Regions from separate parts of the Homo sapiens genome. Here region 2 is linked to region 1. The links come from fine-mapping of genetic effects on plasma protein levels. A gene starts in region 1. The other region holds a variant in brackets. All regions are shown on one strand. Distances are between the middles of the regions.

Region 1 (8,320 bases):
AGCCTGGGGTGTTCCGCCCTTGCCAGGCGCGAGTCTGGGGCTGCCAGGACCTTCCCCCAGGAGGCGTCGGGGAGGGCGGGGCGCTGGACGGCCCTCCTGGCCTGGGGAGCGATTCCAGGGGAGGGGGCCCCCCACAGCCCTAGGCCTCTGAACCAGGAGCTGCCCCGCAGCCCCGCTGCTCAGACAGGGATATTGAGGTCCTGCTAGGGAAGCTCTCTCTGGGGTCCCCGCCCCCGCTTTCAATGTGAATGCTCATCGCCTCCTAGGCTTATCGCATCTTCCCAAGTCATCATTTTACAGATGGGGAAACTGAGGCCGGGTCGCAGCTATGAGTGCAGGGGCCCAAGCACCTCAGTTTGAAAGCTGCAGCCAGGACCCAGATGACCAACCCCCTTTCTGTTATCTGGGGGTCTGGTAGGGCCTCTGAACACAGCTGTTGAGTTTATGTGCCAGCCTCAGTTTCTCTGTGTGTAAAGTGGGGCTGACGAGGGAGCCCCACTTCCAAGGCAGTGCGGCACTCCTTAGGGGATGGCCAGCGCCCGCCACGCAGCCCTTGCAGGGCATGTGGGCCGCACCTGGGCGGCCCCGGCACAGCGGCTCACAGGCACATCTGGAAATGCTCGGCCAGGGTGGCTTTTATGCGAGCGAGAACGGAAGGGGGCCTGAGTTCCGTCCCCAGGGCCAGATGAGGTTGGGGGTGGGGGGTCCTGGGCCGTCTCATGCCCAGGCCAGGCACTTTTTGAAGACTGTCCTTCTCCCAGAAGCCAGAGGGGGGTCTGGAGGGAGCAGGGGTATGTGGCAGTGAGTTCAGGACCACCCAGCCAGGCTGATCTGGGATTAATCACATCTCAGAGGCCAGCAGAGTTCCTCAGCCTGGCCTTCGGGTCTGCAGCCCTCAGCTTCAGCCTCCCCTTGGCTCCTCTGCCTGACCCCACCCACCAGGACCTAACCTCAAGCCATGTTCTCTCCTGATCCACTCTCCCATACCGGCCCCATCTGGCAAACTCCTAGACATCCCCCAACACCCCAGCTCTAATGCCCACCTCCTTCAAGATGTGCCCCAACAGGCCAGGCATGGTGGCTCACGCCTGTAATCCCAGCACTTTGGGAGGCCAAGGCTGGCAGATCACTTGAGGTCAGGAGTTTGAGACCAGCCTGGCCAATGTGGTGAAACCCTGTCTCTACCAAAAACATAAAAATTAGCCAGGTGTGGTGGCGCGCGCCTGCAGTCCCAGCCCCTGGGGAGGCCGAGGAAAGAGAATCACCTGAACCTCGGAGGCCGAAGTTGCAGTGAGCCAAAATCGCACCACTGCACTCCAGCCTGGGTGACAGAGCGAGGCTCCATCTCAGGAAAAAAAAAAAAAAAAAAAAAAAAAACCATCATCCTCCAGTGCGGAGAATCTTATTCATTCGTTCTGTGCCACTCGCCAACCAAGAGCCCCTAGTCTGATGTGGGAGGCATCCTCTCAAAACAGGGTCCCGAGGCAAATGCTTGTTAAACATGCAGCTGTAACCCCACCGCAGACCCTGGAGTCTGCAGTGAAGGTCCCTGGTGTGGACATTTGGGGTCACAGGCCAGAATGGCAAACCCACCTTCCCAGGAGCTAGGTGCAAGCCAGACATTTATCGACCAGGTGGGAAGAGCCACCCAGGCAGAGAGCTCAGCCCCAGCAAAGGCTGGAGCCACGTGGTCTCTTCCTGAGTCCTGAGCTGCAAGAGGCTGGAGCCTGGGAACCGGGAAGTCCCCCCAGTCCCTCTCTGAGGCTGGGATCCCCCTGCAGCCTCCTACATACCCCTGTGACGGGCTCAGTCCCTGGACGTTCGGCCCTCGACCACCATGACTGTTTGTGGCTGGTCCTGAGCTGAGACGTCTGCCCTGCTTCTGGCCTGAGGTCTCACCTTTGCAGGGAAGGCAGTGGACAAGGCCCAAGAAGCCGAGGAGGTTGATCTTGTTCCCCGGGTGGGTGAGGTTGGACCAGGCGGTGTCAATGTTGCCGGAGGCACAGCACTCGGCCCGGGTGACATCAGTCTGGAGCACCAGGCTGCAGGTGGCCTCCTGGCCCTGCTGGAGCCAGCAAACACCACCTGCGGGCCGGGGAACGGGGTGCTCTCCTGGGCCACTCCTGACACCCAGCTTCTGGCCCGCCCACAGATGCATGCAGGTGGTGCTGAGTAGTTACGCACGGAATGATCTACCCCCACCCAGGAAGAAGGGGCAGAAAACCACATGGGTGTCCCCACCCTGGCTCCAGAACCCTGGAAATGTCTCCTCCCCTCTGAGCTCCACGTGCCCCCCCCCACAGCCTCACCACCAACCCCCACCCACCCCAGGAGGTCCCTTCCCGTACCCTCCAAGCCCCCAGGCCAGGGGCTGGCACCCTGCCCAACCCCTCAAACACCACCAAACACCAGGCACTGGGCATGTCAGGGTCAGCAGGCCCTGGAGCCGCTTCTCCCGCCTCTGCCCTCTGTCTAGACAGCACCCGAGGGCGAGGGCACGCGGAGCCCCGCGCCTGGCAGCCCCCCCACCGCCTGGCCCGCCTCTTACTCACTCCAACTTGGGAACATTCCCCTTGCATGAGCTCACTGTCTCCCCAGGGACGTGGCCTTCGGGGAGGGGGCTCTGCTCTCCCTTTGGCGCAGGGCTGGGGTGGGGTGGGGCTGCAGGGATGGGGGGTGGGGAGCCAGAGAGCCCCCCATTTCTTCCCCCGTCCCTGGGGGCAGGAACGGCCACAGCCCCCATCCCAGAGCGCTTGCTGGTTCACAGACACTGCCAGGGACCAGCTTGTGGAACGCAGCACCTTGGCACCCATCATAGGAGGGGAAACTGAGGCCAGGAGTGGGGCCGTCTCCTGCCTGGCACCTCCCGGCAAGTCCCAGGTGTGAGACTCCATGCCCCGTCTACCCAGGACCCGGGAAAGCTCTCAGCCCCAGCTGGAGGGCCTGGCTCCCGACACCCAGCACTACCTCTCGGCACCAGGACCGACCCGGACGGTCGCGGCTAGAACCCTGGCTTTGCCTGCTACAGGCTGTGTGACCCTGAGCCTCAGTTTCCCCATCTGGAAGACGGAGATGAAGAGAGCTCCGGCACTATCGGGATGGCACAGGTTCAGGGAGGGGAGAGGTAGACACTAAGCGCTCAATAAATGTCAGCGGTCATTGTGATTAGAAACCTCTGCTCTGCTGACCTCTTGGTGACCCTCCTTCAGACCTTCCCGGCTCCAGCTTGCGCCGGACACCGCCCTCGCCCCCGCCGCCGCCGCCGCGCCCCCCGACGTCCCCCCGGCCGCATTCCGCGCAGCCCCACGTGGGTGGCCCGCCCCGCCCGCCCCTCTGGCCGCCCCACTCACCGGGCGCGGGGTTCCCCGAGCCCATGGAGCTCACGAAGCCCACGGCCCAAGCCAGGGCCCCCCAGGGCAGAGGCCAGAGTGGCCCTGGCGCCCCGGGACGCATGGCGAACGCAGAGACGGCAGCGGCACCGACTTCCCAGCGCGCGGCCGGCGCTCCCTATAAAGGTCCCGCGGGCCGCGGGCGGGGCGGGGCGCGGGGCGGGGCGCGGCGCGGGAGTGGCGGGGGCGAGGCCGTGTCCCGCGCGGGGTGGGCAGGCGCCGGGCCCGGCCGCTGCGGGGGGCAGTTGGGGGCGAGCGCCCGGGTCCCCTTCCGGAGCCAGAGAATGCATTTGGGGAGATGTGGCTGGACCCAGGGCGGAACCGGGACAGGGGTGTGGGTTCGAGGTGGTGGCAGCCTTTTGGGTGGATCGAGGGGCCGTCTCCAGGAATTAAAGTGGGTTTGGGGGTCTTCAGTTTCAGGGGTGGCGGTGAGGTAACGGGGACCCAAGAGGAGCACGTCTGTGGATCCCTGCATCCCGTTTCTGTGATTTGCATGTGGTCACTTTCATGGTCCAAGTGTGGTCTGAGCCCCCCAACCCGGCCTCCTTGTTCCCGACCCGCCCCACACACCCAAAACCTCAGCTGGATATGGTTCCCTGCTCACAGCGCGGGCCGCGCACCCGTCCACCTGGCCGCTGGAGCCGGCCTGTGGGTGGGGAGTGGTTGGGTGTGGGACAGAACGGGGTGCGGCCGGGACAGACCCAGAGACACAGCTCCTTCCAGCATCTCGGACAACAGCAGGCCTCGCCCAGCCACGGCCCCCAGGGAGGCCACTGCGTGTGTGTGTGTGTGTGTGTGTGTGTGTGCGCGCGCACGCCTGGCCTTTGTCCTGGGCCCCTGGGCAGCTCTGCCCCATCAGCCCTCCAAGCCTTTGCAGACATTCCCCCAGATCACCTCAACAAGAATGTTTACTAGGTTTTTTCCTCTCCCTCCAAGATTCAGCAAACACTGTTTCCAGCAGAGGCGTTTCCAACAATGTATGACAGCGACATCTGCGTGGGCCTGGAGGCGCTGCGCCCGAGGGGGCTTTCGTGCAGCCAGACACATTTCCTACTCTGGAGCTGATTCTGTCATGGGGGCCTCCAGATTTGTCAGGCGCCCTTGGCGAGCGCAGGGGAGCCCCTCTGTTCCTGCTTCTAGGGCATCAGTGAACATCTCTTTTGGCCAGAGGGACCCTGCGGGGTGCTGGGGTGCCACGGTGACCAAGGCAGACCCCATCACACCCTCACCGAGCTCCTGGTTTGGACAACAAAATGCAGAGACAAATTAATCTATAACTTCAAGGAGTGGTAAATGCTTTCAGGAAAATACAGAAGGTTGAGGTGGTGGAGAGCGGTTGGGTGTCTGCTGGGCATGCCTGTGTCTGGCCACTCGCTGTGCCGGCATTGCCCACCCCGCAGGTGGAAACGGACGTGTCCAGCAGCCCCACGGCACAGCCCCTTCTCTGGCCTGAGTGAGATCTGTGCCCACAGAAGACACACCTGTACCCTTTCCTCCACCTTAGCTGCCCAGCCTGTGTCCCCCAGCAGCCAGTGGCCAGGGGCCAAGTTCTGCCTTAGTGGCACTGAGGGGGGACACCCCGCCGTCTTGACCTGGCCTTGGCCTCTGGCATTTCCCCCGGGAATCTCCCCGGCTTGGGGAGCAGGGCAGGGACGGGACCCTGTATTCTCACTGAGGGGGGACACCCCGCCGTCTCGACCTGGCCTTGGCCTCTGGCATTTCCCCCGGGAATCTCCCCGGCTTGGGGAGCAGGGCAGGGACGGGACCCTGTGTTCTCACTGAGGGGGGACACCCCGCCGTCTCGACCTGGCCTTGGCCTCTGGCATTTCCCCCGGGAATCTCCCCGGCTTGGGGAGTGGGGCAGGCACAGGACCCTGTGTTCTCACTGACGGGGGACACCCCGCCGTCTCGACCTGGCCTTGGCCTCTGGCATTCCCCCGGGACTCTCCCGGGATTGGGGAGTGGGGCAGGGATGGGACCCTGTGTTCTCACTGAGGATGTGCGGGGGCTGGACAGTGTGACCTTGGCCAAGACCTGACCCCGCCGTGGCTTGGCCACTCCGGCCTGGGCTGTGCGAATCAAAGGGTCATTGTCTGGCTGGCGTGGGTTCCGGCCCTCTCCGGGGAAACCGAGGCCAGCTGCCAGTGGCCTCCTGCTCCCGGCTCTGTCTTCCCTAACCCAGAGGCTCTGTGCAGGGTGACCTCTAACAGGTCACTGACCCTTTCCAGAGCGCCGCCTCCTCCTGAGACCCCAGTGATGACCTCCCCTCTCCCGGCTCTGCCCCTCTCCCCACCCTATCCAGGCCCGAGGCTCATCCTAGGACTTCCAGCCCGCAGCCTGGCCCCTGCGGCCCACTTCCTACCCCAGCTGCCATAACACTTCTCCCTGGCTCAGACACCCACCGTGGCTCCTCGTGGCCTCTGCTCACCCCCCAGGCTTCTGTCTCCCTCCAGGTACATCCTGACAGGTAAACAGACAGTGACAATCCAGTGTTGTTCTGTGGCGGAGGATGCCCAGATGGCAAAGGTGCCCCAGGCCTGACCCGGGCCTGGGGGAGACTGAGGAAGGCTTCCCAGAGGAAAGAGACGTTGAGGTTGAGACTCGAACGTCAGACGGAGCGGCAGGGGTGTGCGCTGGAAACAGACGCTTGTGCTGTGAGTGAGGGGGAGAGCAGTGGGGGGTGGTCAGCAGAACGGCGGTCCCAGAGACCATGGGGCCCTCATCCCTAGAACCCGTGGGTGTCCCACCCTCCCTGGCCAAAGGGGCTCTGCAGATGGGACTGAGTTGAGGGCTTTCACACAGGGGTTCATCCTGGGTTATACGGATGGCCCACTGTCCTGGAAGGGTCCGTAGAAGAGGAGATGCCTGGCCGGGCGCGGTGGTTCACACCTGTGAACCACCAACACATTAGGTTCACACCTGTGAACCTCCAACACATTAGGAGGCCGAGGCAGGCAGATCACTTGAGGTCAGGAGTTCGAGACTAGCCTGGCCAACATGGTAAAACCCTGTCTCTACTAAAAATACAAAAAAATTAGGTGGGCCTGGTGGTGTGCGCCTGTAATCCCAGCACTTTGGGAGGCCGAGGCAGGAGGATCACTTGAAGTCAGGAGTTCGAGACTAGCCTGGCCAACATGGTAAAACCCCGTCTCTACTAAAAATACAAAAAAATTAGGTGGGCCTGGTATTGTGCACCTGTAATCCCAGCTACTTGGGAGGCTGAGGCAGGAGAATCACTTGAACCTGGGAGGCAGAGGTTGAAGTGACCCGAGATCGTGCCACTGCACTGCAGCCTGGGTGACAGAGCGAGACTCTGTCTCAAAAAAAAAAAAAAAAAAAAGGAGACGCCTGCCCTCTATGGTTAGAGACAGGATAAGAGAAGGACTTGGCTGCCATTGCGGGATTTGGAGATGGAGGAAGGGGGCTCAAGCCAGGGAATGTGGGCGGCCTCTAGGAGCCTGGAAAGGCGCGGAACAGATTCTCTCCTGGAGCTGCCAGAAGGAATGCAGCTCTGCCAACACCTCGATCTTCTCCCAGCCAGACCCGTGTGGAACTTTTTTTTTTTTTTTTTTGAGACGTAGTCTCGTTCTGTTGCTTAGGCTGGAGTGCAATGGCGCGATCTCGGCTCACTGCAACCTCCGCCCCCGGGTTCAAGCAATCCTTCTGCGTCAGCCTCACGAGTAGCTGGGATTGTAGGCACCTGCCACCACAACTGGCTAATTTTTGTATTCTTAGTAGAGACGCGGTTTCGCCATGTTGGCCAGGCTGGTCTTGAACTCCTGACCTCAGTGATTCACCCGCCTTGGCCTCCCAAAGTGCTGGGGTTACAGGTGTGAGCCACCATGCCTGGCCATTTTTATTTTTTTGAGACAGGGCCTCACTCTGTTGTCCAGGCTGGAGTGCAGAGGTGCGATCTCGGCTCACTGCAACCTCAGCCTCCAGACTAAGTGGGATTACAGGCGCCTCCCACCACACCCGGCTACTTTTTTTTTTTTTTTTTGCAGTGACGGGATTTTGCCATGTTGGTCAGGCTGGTCTCAAACTCCTGACCTCAGGTGATCTGCCCATCTTGGCCTCACAAAGTGCTGGGATTACAGGCATGAGACACTGCGCCCAGCCCGTGTGTTGCTTTAAGCCAGGCAGTTTGTGCAAATTTGTTATAGCAGCCGTGGGTGCCCACTGTGTGCCAGGCCCTGGGACCCTTCTAGGCCTGTTTTCTTTTTCTTTCTTTTTTTTTTTTTTTGAGACAGAGTTTCGCTCTTGTTGCCAAGGCTGGAGTGCAGTGGCGCAATCTCGGCTCACTGCAACCTCTGCCTCCCGGGTTTAAGCAATTCTCTTGCCTCAGCCTCCTGAGTAGCTGGAATTACAGGCATGCACCAGCAGACCCAGCTAATTTTTTGTATTTTTAGTAGAGATGGGTTTCACCATGTTGGCCAGGCTGGTCTCGAACTCCTGACCTCTGGCGATCCAGCTGCCTTGGCCTCCCAAATTGCTGGGATTACAGGCGTGAACCACCGTGCCCAGCCTATGCCTGTTTTCTTATCTGTAACATGGGCACAGACCCCAGTGTTAGAGGTTCCAGGTGGGATGTGGACAGTGCCAGGCGCACAGTAGGGCCATGGCGTGCATAGATTCCTGTTAATTACCCAGTCAATGGGTGCTCGTGCAGAACGGGACCATGGTGAGTCCCCTTTGCTGCTTGCTGGGAGGCTGTGAGGCAGGCGCCCCATTTATAGGGATGAGGTTGGAGGGTGGGAAGTGATTTTCTTGGAGTCACACAGACCTGCAGAGTCAGGACTAGGGTCAGCACCAGGTTCAGAAGCTTCCAGGACCCCTGTGCCTCCCATGGACCACACGACGAGGGCCAGCCTGGGGCTGGTTCCCCCTTTCTGCTCCCACTACTGCACTCCAGCCCGGGTGACAGAGTGAGA
Region 2 (8,320 bases), 17 kb before region 1:
TGGCCAGGCTGGTCTTGAACTCCTGACCTCAGGTGATCCACCTGCCTCGGCCTCCCAAAGTGCTAGGATTATAGGCGTGAGCCACTGCACCCGGCCCCAGCCTGTTCATTATTAAGCGCTGACGAGCACCCCACTGCTAGCCACTGCCGTGAACGCCATCACCCGGCTGTGTGAGCTGCAATTTACGACCTGAACTTTGCCACTAAGAACGCTCCCACTGAAAGGTGAAGACCTGCCGGGCTGGGCGCGGTGGCTCAGGCCTGTCATCCCAGCACTTTGGGAGGCTGAGGCAGGTGGATCACCTGAGGTCGGGAGTTCGAGACCAGCCTGACCAACATGGAGAAACTCCGTCTCTACTAAACACACAAATTTAGCGGGGCGTGGTGGTGGGCACCTGTAATCCCAGTTACTCAGGAGGCTGAGGAAGGAGAATCCCTTGAACTCAGGAGACAGAGGTTGCGGTGAGCCAAGATCGCGCCACTGCACTCTAGCCTGGGCAACAAGAGCAAGATTCCTTCTCAAAAAAAAAAAAAAAAAAAAAAAGGCCGGGCACCGTGGCTCATGCCTGTAATCCCAGCACTTTGGGAGGCCGAGGCGGGCGGATCATGAGGTCAGGAGATCGAGACCATCCTGGCTAATATGGTGAAACCCCGTCTCTACTAAAAATACAGAAACAAAATTAGCCGGCTGTGGTGGCGGGCGCCTGTAGTTCCAGTTACTCGGGAGGCTGAGGAACGAGAATCACTCGAACCCGGGAGGTAGAGGTTGCGGTGAGCCGAGATGGTGCCATTCCACTCTAGCCTGGGCAACAAGAGCAAGACTCCATCTCAAAAAAAAAAAGAAAAGAAAAAAAAGGTGAAGACCCCCATGTACAGCCATGTCCCACTGGACTCCGGATCCCACAGAACGTCAGTGCTACAGGCTGGGGTGCGGTCACTGCCTCATCCTCACCTCCTAGCATGAGGTCTGGTATACACTAGGCACTCAATAACTGCTGAATAAAGGCAGAAATCTGCCAGGTGCAGTGGCTGTCTTCTGTGATCTCAGCACTTTGGAAGGCCGAGGAGGGAGGATCGCTGGAGCCCAGGAGTTCGAGACCAGCCTGGGCAACATAGCAAAACCCCACCTATAAAAATAAAATAAAATAAAGGCAGAAATCATCAGAGCTTCCCAGGAGACCGGCCTTCCTCGCTGTCCCCACAGCCCTGAGGTCGGCCCTGGGTTTGGAGATGGGAAGACTGGGGTTTGCGGGGTGGGGGCCGGAGGCGAGCTGCGGGTCTCGAGTGCCGCTGTGACCTCGGTTCCTCGGAAAGCTCCCCACACATGCTGGGCCACGTGGAGGCTGGGTAAACTGAGGCACAGAAGGGTCAATTGCCTTCCCGAGGTCACTTGCAGCCCCAGAGCTGTCTCCTCCTCTCCCTGTTTCCGGACTAGGGGACAATGATTATTATCAACATGATTATTACCAGCCACCACCTGAGACCATCGATTTCTCAGAAACGCCCGCCTGGGCTCCAGGCGTTGCTGGTGGGGCCTCCCGACCACAGGCCACAGCCAGGCTCCCCCTTTCCGGCCGTTGGCTGAGGGTGGGAGCCACGGCCCGAAGACCTCTGCGGGGAGACGCCAGCCTGCGTCTGCCATGGGGCTCGGGTTGAGGGGCTGGGGACGTCCTCTGCTGACTGTGGCCACCGCCCTGATGCTGCCCGTGAAGCCCCCCGGTGAGGAGCCCCCCGGGATCCCCACCCAGGCCCCCGCCAAGTCCCCGTACGGGGGCCACACCCGGGAACCCCCAGTCCCGGGAGAACCCTGGGGAGAGCTCCACCTGCTCCATCTGCCGAGCCCCCGTGGCTGCCTCTGCTGGAAATGGATGGAAATCCGGCCGGGGTCTCTGCCCAGCCCAGCCCTGGATCTCCCGGGCTCGGGAGCCCCTCCCAGCGCATCTGGGGGGCTTGTCTGGGCTCTGTCTCCAGCTCTCTGGGTCTCTCCGTCTCTAATCTCACCCCCTGTCTCTGTCTTGGCCGCTACTTCTCCCCCTGCCCTGACCCCAGCCCCGTCATCCGTTCCTCCCGCCTCGTCCCTGACTCAGGCCGTCCCTCCAGCAGGCTCCTGGGGGGCCCAGATCATCGGGGGCCACGAGGTGACCCCCCACTCCAGGCCCTACATGGCATCCGTGCGCTTCGGGGGCCAACATCACTGCGGAGGCTTCCTGCTGCGAGCCCGCTGGGTGGTCTCGGCCGCCCACTGCTTCAGCCACAGGTGAGCTCACCTGTCGGGCCCCTTCTTTCTGGACACCGTATCCCGACATGAGGGGGACTCCAGGCTGGTGGGGGAGCTGGGGGCGCCGTGGCTCCTGCAGGAGGGGGAGTCTCAGCAGGGGCTGGATTTAAAGGGCAACAAAGGGAAAACAGGAGGATAAGGCAGGGAGGCAAAAGAAGCACAGAAGAAGCAACAGGCGCAACAAGTACATATTCTGTTACTGTAACTGTCACTATGTTCTTTTTTTTTTTTGAGGCAGTCTCGGTTCCCCAGGCTGGAGTGCAACGGTGCAATCTCGGCTCACTGCAACCTCCACCTCCCGGGCTCAAGCGATTCTCCTGCCTCAGCTTCCCGAGTAGCTGGGATCACAGGCGCCCACCACCACACCTGGCTAATTTTTGCATTTTTAGTAGAGACTGGATTTCACCATGTTGGCCAGGCTGGTCTCGAACTCCTGACTTCAAATGATCCACCCGCCTCTGCCTCCCAAAGTGCTGGGATTGCAGGTGTGAGCCGCCATGCCCTGCCTCGTTTTAAACATATTGTTATAATAACTATTAAAATGTATATTGGGGCCAGGGTGGGTGGGTCCCCTCCTGCAGGAGCCCCCACCAGGCACGGGATAGGTTGGTCCTGGGCTGCAGTGTCCCCAGCTCCCCCGCCAGCCTGCAGTCCCCCTCACGTTGGGACACGGTGGATTGTTTGAGGTCAGGAGTATGAGACCAGCCTGGCCAACATGGTGAAACTCTGTCTCTACTAAAAATACGAAAATTAGGCTGGGTGCGGTGGCTCATGCCTGTAATCCCAGCACTTTGGGAGGCCGAGGCAGGAGGATCACGAGGTCAGGAGATCGAGACCATCCTGGCTAATACAGTGAAACCCCATCTCTACTAAAAATACAAAAAAATTAGCCGGATGTGGTGGCAGGCGCCTGTAGTCCCAGCTACCCAGGAGGCTGAGGCAGGAGAATGGCGTGAACCCGGGAGGCGGCGCTTTCAGTGAGCCGAGATCGCGCCACTGCACTCCAGCCTGGGGGACAGAGCGAGACTCTGTCTCAAAAAAAAAATACGAAAATTAGTTGGGCATGGTAGCAAGTGGCTGTACGTATCCCCAGCTACTCGGGAGGCTGAGGTAGGAGAATCACTTGAACCCAGGAGGTGGAGGTGGCAGTGAGCCGAGATGGCACCACTGCACTCCAGCCTAGGGGAAAGAGTGAGATTCTGTCGGAAAAAAAAAAGTTAATTGTGGTTTTTGCCATTTAATTTTTTTCGTGCAATTACTTTTGCACCAACCTAATATTATCACGGGGCCGGCGTGAGCATTAAATGGATTACTGGGCCTCCATTTCATAGATGAGTGGACTGAGGCCCAGACGGGCAGCCGTCACCCCCATCTCACCCACCCCCTCCTCCCCGCAGAGTCCTCCGCACCGGAGCTGTGCTTCTGTGGTCCCAGCTACTTGAAAGGCTGCTGTGGGAGGATCGCTTGAGCCTGGGAGGTCGAGGCTGCAGTGAGCTGTGATCACACCACTGCGGCCTGGGTGACAGAGTGAGACCTTGTCTCAAAAAAAAAAAAAAAAAAAAGGCCGGGTGCGGTGGCTCACGCCTGTAATCCCGGCACTTTGGGAGGCCGAGGCAGGCGGATCACGAGGTCAGGAGATCGAGACTGTCCTGGCTAACACGGTGAAACCCTGTCTCTACTAAAAAAAAATACAAAAAATTAGCCGGATATGGTGGCGGGCGCCTGTAGTCCCAGCTATTCAGGAGGCTGAGGCAGGAGAATGGCGTGAACCCGGGAGGTGGAGCTTGCAGAGAGCCAAGATTGCACCACTGCAATCTTGCCTGGGTGACAGAGCGAGACTCCGTCTCAAAAAAAAAAATTAAAGAAATAAAAAAAGGAGAATATTGAAATTACTGTAGTTAATATTATAATTGAAATAGAACTTATAATAAATATAATAAGTATTATCTTCATTCTAAATATGTTTTTATAATAATGATTCAAATTAATACCACAACTATTG[C/T]AGTTAATTCTATATTGGAGGTAGGAAAAATAATAAACATAATTATTAATTTATTATCATAATATTAAGTTGGGGGCTGGGCACCGTGGCTCACGCCTGTAATCCCAGCACTTTGGGAGGCCGAGGCAGGTGGATCACTTCAGGTCAGGAGTTCGAGACCAGCCTGGCCAACATGGTGAAACCCTGTCTCTACTGAAAATACAAAAATTAGCTGGGAGTGGTGGCGCACGCCTGTAGTCTTAGCTGCTTGGAGGGCTGAGGCAGGAGAATCACTGGAACCCAGGAGGCAGAGGTTGCAGTAAGCCTCGATTGCACTCTAGCCTAGGGGACAGAGTGAGACTCTGTCTCAAAAAAAAAAAAAAAGAAAAAAGGAAAAGAATATTAAGTTGATGCAAAAGTAATTGTTTTTTTTTTGTTTTTTTGAGACGGAGTCTTGTTCTGTCGCTCAGGCTGGAGTGCAATGGTGCAATCTCAGCTCACTGCAACCTCCGCCTCCCAGGCTCAAGCAATTCTCCTGCCTCAGCCTCCCGAGTAGCTGGGATGACAGGCATGTGCCACCACACCTGGCTAATTTTGTATTTTTAGTAGAGACGGGGTTTCTCCATGTTGATCAGGCTGGTCTTGAACTCCCGACCTCAGGTGATCCACCCTCCTCACCCTCCCAAAGTGCTGGGATTACAGGCGTGAGCCACCGTGCCCGGCCTGGGCCTCCGTTTCATAGATGAGTGGACCGAGGCCCAGGACGGGCAGCCCTCACCCCCGTCTCACCCACCACCTCCTCCCTGCAGAGACCTCCGCACTGGCCTGGTGGTGCTGGGCGCCCACGTCCTGAGTACTGCGGAGCCCACCCAGCAGGTGTTTGGCATCGATGCTCTCACCACACACCCCGACTACCACCCCATGACCCACGCCAACGACATCTGCCTGCTGCGGGTGAGCCCCGGGGGTGGATCTGACGTATGTTTAGTTTTTGAGACAGTCTCTCGCTCTGTCGCTCGGGCTGGAGGGCAATGGCGCAATCTCGGCTCACTGCAACCTCAGCCTCCCGGGTTCAAGTGATTCTCCTGCCTCAGCCTCTCAAGTACATGGGATTACAGGTGCGCGCCACCAAGCCCATCTAATTTTTGTATTTTAGTAGAGACGGGGTTTCACCATGTTGGCCAGGCTGGTCTCAAGCTCCTGACTTCAAATGATCCACCTGCCTCGGCCTCCCAAAGGGCTGGGATTACAAGCGTGAGCCACCGAGCCCGGCCTACTTTTCTTTTCTTTTCTTTTTTTTTTTTTTTGAGTCAGAGTCTCGAACTGTCACGGGGGCTGGAGTGCAATGGCGCCATCTCGGCTCACTGTAACCTCCGCCTCCCAGGCTCAAGTGATTCTCCTGCCTCAGCCACCCAAGTAGCTGGGATTACAGGCACTCGCCACCAGACCTGGCTAGTTTTTTGTGTTTTTAGTAGAGATGGGGTTTCACTATGTTGGCCAGGCTGGTCTCGAACTCCTGACCCAGTGATCCACCCACCTCAGCCTCCCAAAGTGTTGGGATTACAGGCGTGAGCCATCGTGCCTGGCCATTTTTTTTTTCCAGGCTTAATTCACTTTATTTTTCGTGTATAAAACCCTATGTTGTAACCACAGCTGGAGCCGGGCGTCTGCACGGAGACTCTGGTGTGAGTCTTCACAAGATGGCCAGTGAATACCTGAAAGAGAGACTTGGGGAATACAGAGGTCAGGGGTCAGGCAGCTGTAGGTCTTAGAGAGGATATCAGAGGCGGCCTTGGCAAAGTGGCCCAGGGTGGCAGTGCAGCCCCTGGCTAAGGTGTAGCAGTCACCGATACCAGCCATCATGAGCAGCTTCTTGAGCACAGGCGCCCAGACGATGCCAGCGCCCCGGACACGGGGATCAGGCACACCAGCGCAGAGCCGCAGCGGCCTGTCACCTTGCCAGGGACGGTGTAGGGCTTGCCGATCTTGTTCCCCCAGTAGCCTCTGTGCATGGGGACAACGGAGAGCTTGGCCAGGATGACGGCCCCGATGATGGCAGTGGCTACCTCCTTGGAGCACTCAACACCCAGACCGACGTGGCCATTGTAGTCCCCGGTGGGAACAGACGCCTCGAACCTGGTGCGCTGGCCGGTGCGGATCTGCTTCTGCACCGGCATAATCTCCAAAACCTCGTCCTGGAGAGAGGCCCTCAGGAAAAGGTCAATGATCTCAGATTCCTTGATGGGCAGGGAGAAGAGACAGATCTCCTCCAGGGACATGATCTTTATGTCCTTGACCAGGCGGCCCAGCTTGGTGACAGGCGTCTACTCCTTATCCTCTGTCTTGCCTCTGTGAGCTCCGCGGCCCCAGCCCGGAAGCCAGTGCCGAAGCCTCGGGGGAAGCCAGCGCCGTTCCCCATCCCAGGGCCGCCCCACTGCACCGACGTCATCCGCCGTTTAGTGTTTTCCAGGAGAAGCAGCCCTGGGCTATTTTTTTTTTTTTCAGACAGTATCTCCCTGTGTCCCCAGGCTGGAGTGCAGTAGCACGATCTCGGCTCACTGCAGCCTCTGCCTCCCAGGTTCAAGCGATTCTCCTGCCTCAGCCCCCCGAGTAGCTGGGATTACAGGCGCCCGCCACCACGCCCGGCTAATTTTTGTATTTTTAGTAGAGATGGGGTTTCACCATGTTTGCCAGGATGGTCTCGATCTCTTGACCTCGTGATCCGCCCACCTCTGCCTCCCAATCCTGGCCTATTTTTTGAGACGGAGTCTCACTTTGGCACCTGGGCTGGAGTAAAGTGGCACAGTCAGGGCTCACTGCAACCTCCATCTCCCGGGTTCAAGCGATTCTCCTGCCTCGGCCTCCCGAGTAGCTGGGATCACAGGCACCCACCACCACACCTGGCTAATTTTTGTATTTTTAGTAGAGATGGGATTTCACCATGTTGGCCAGGCTGGTCTTAACTCCGGTCCTCAAGTGATCCGCCCACCTTGGTCTCCCAAAGTGTCGGGATCACGGGCGTGTACCACTGCGCCAGGCGAATTTTTATATTTTTAGTAGAGACGGGGTTTCACCATGTTGCCCAGGCTGGTCTTGACCTCCTGGACTCAGGCAATCCTCCTGCCTCAGCCCCGCAAAGTGCTGGGATTACAAACCTGAGCTGCTGCGCCTGGCCTGACTTAGGTTTTAAAGACAGTTGGACGTCAGGTCCCATTCCTCCTGTGCCCTGGACCCCCCAGTGGCTCCCACCTCCTGCAGGACAAATCCTCCTGGTGCCCACAGGCCCTGCTAATCCATGCCTGTCACCTTTCTGACTCGAGGCCAGCAGACCTCCCGGATGGGCCATCCCATCCCCAGCACAGTCTCCGCTCCGAGCTCTGCACCAGCTGTACCCAGTGCACCAGTTCCCCAGACACCGCGAGCCTTTCCCCTCACGCCTGTCAAGTCTTTGCTCAAATGTTACCTTCCCAGGAGGCCGCCCTGGACCACATACCCCCTCCCTGCAACCCTGTTCCAGCCCCGTCATCACCTGCTAACCCCTGGACCACCCTTCCGGCCCCGTCATCTCCTGCTAACCCCTGGACCACCCCGTCGTCACCTGCTAACCTGTGGACCACCCTTCCAGCCCCGTCGTCACCTGCTAACCCCTGGACCACCCTTCTAGCACCGTCGTCACCTGCTAACCCCTGGACCACCCTTCCGGCCCCGTCGTCACCTGCTTGTCACCTGCTAACCCCTGGACCACCCGCTTCCTCATTCCCGCTTCCTCTGAACCTAACGGGCAGGGATTTTTTATCACCTTTATGGCCATTTATGGCACACAGCAGGCGCTCAAAGTTTATGCTGAAATGGAATGAATGTGCCTCTCGGGCCCCTGCCCTGTGTGGAGGAGACGCTTAAAGTCCCTGTGTGGGGCCGGGCGTGGTGGCTCACACCTGTAACCCCAGCACTTTGGGAGGCCGAGGCGGGTAGATCATTTGAGGTCAGGAGTTTGAAACCAGACTGGCCAACGTGGTGAAACCCCATCTCTACTAAAAATAAAAAAATTAGCTGAGCCTGGTG

Which allele goes with the higher level. Alleles are on the strand shown, and positions count from the first base shown. The strength of an association depends on the size of the effect and on how common the allele is.
For the plasma level of the protein whose gene starts at base 3,485 in region 1, allele C in region 2 goes with a higher level than allele T (weak association).

Evidence for each region. PIP is the posterior inclusion probability: the model's chance that the variant is causal. Protein levels are from antibody-based Olink assays in UK Biobank. Linkage for the fine-mapping came from a reference panel and not from the study's own genotypes, which makes the PIPs less certain.
Region 2: its variant is fine-mapped to the plasma level of the FSTL3 protein (UK Biobank, PIP 0.91).

What each region holds. Positions count from the first base shown.
Region 1 is chr19:671,557-679,876 of GRCh38, reverse strand. FSTL3 (follistatin like 3) reads right to left here and starts at 3,485. Exons shown (of 5, transcript NM_005860.3): 1 at 3,351-3,485; 2 at 1,900-2,085. The coding sequence starts at 3,453. RefSeq lists a silencer at 1-174 and an enhancer at 629-1,131.
Region 2 is chr19:688,750-697,069 of GRCh38, reverse strand. It overlaps PRSS57 (serine protease 57), which reads left to right and starts at 1,618. Exons shown (of 5, transcript NM_001308209.2): 1 at 1,618-1,718; 2 at 2,103-2,256; 3 at 5,068-5,212. The coding sequence starts at 1,640. It also overlaps the pseudogene RPS2P52. The variant C/T (reference allele first, on the strand shown) is at 4,280.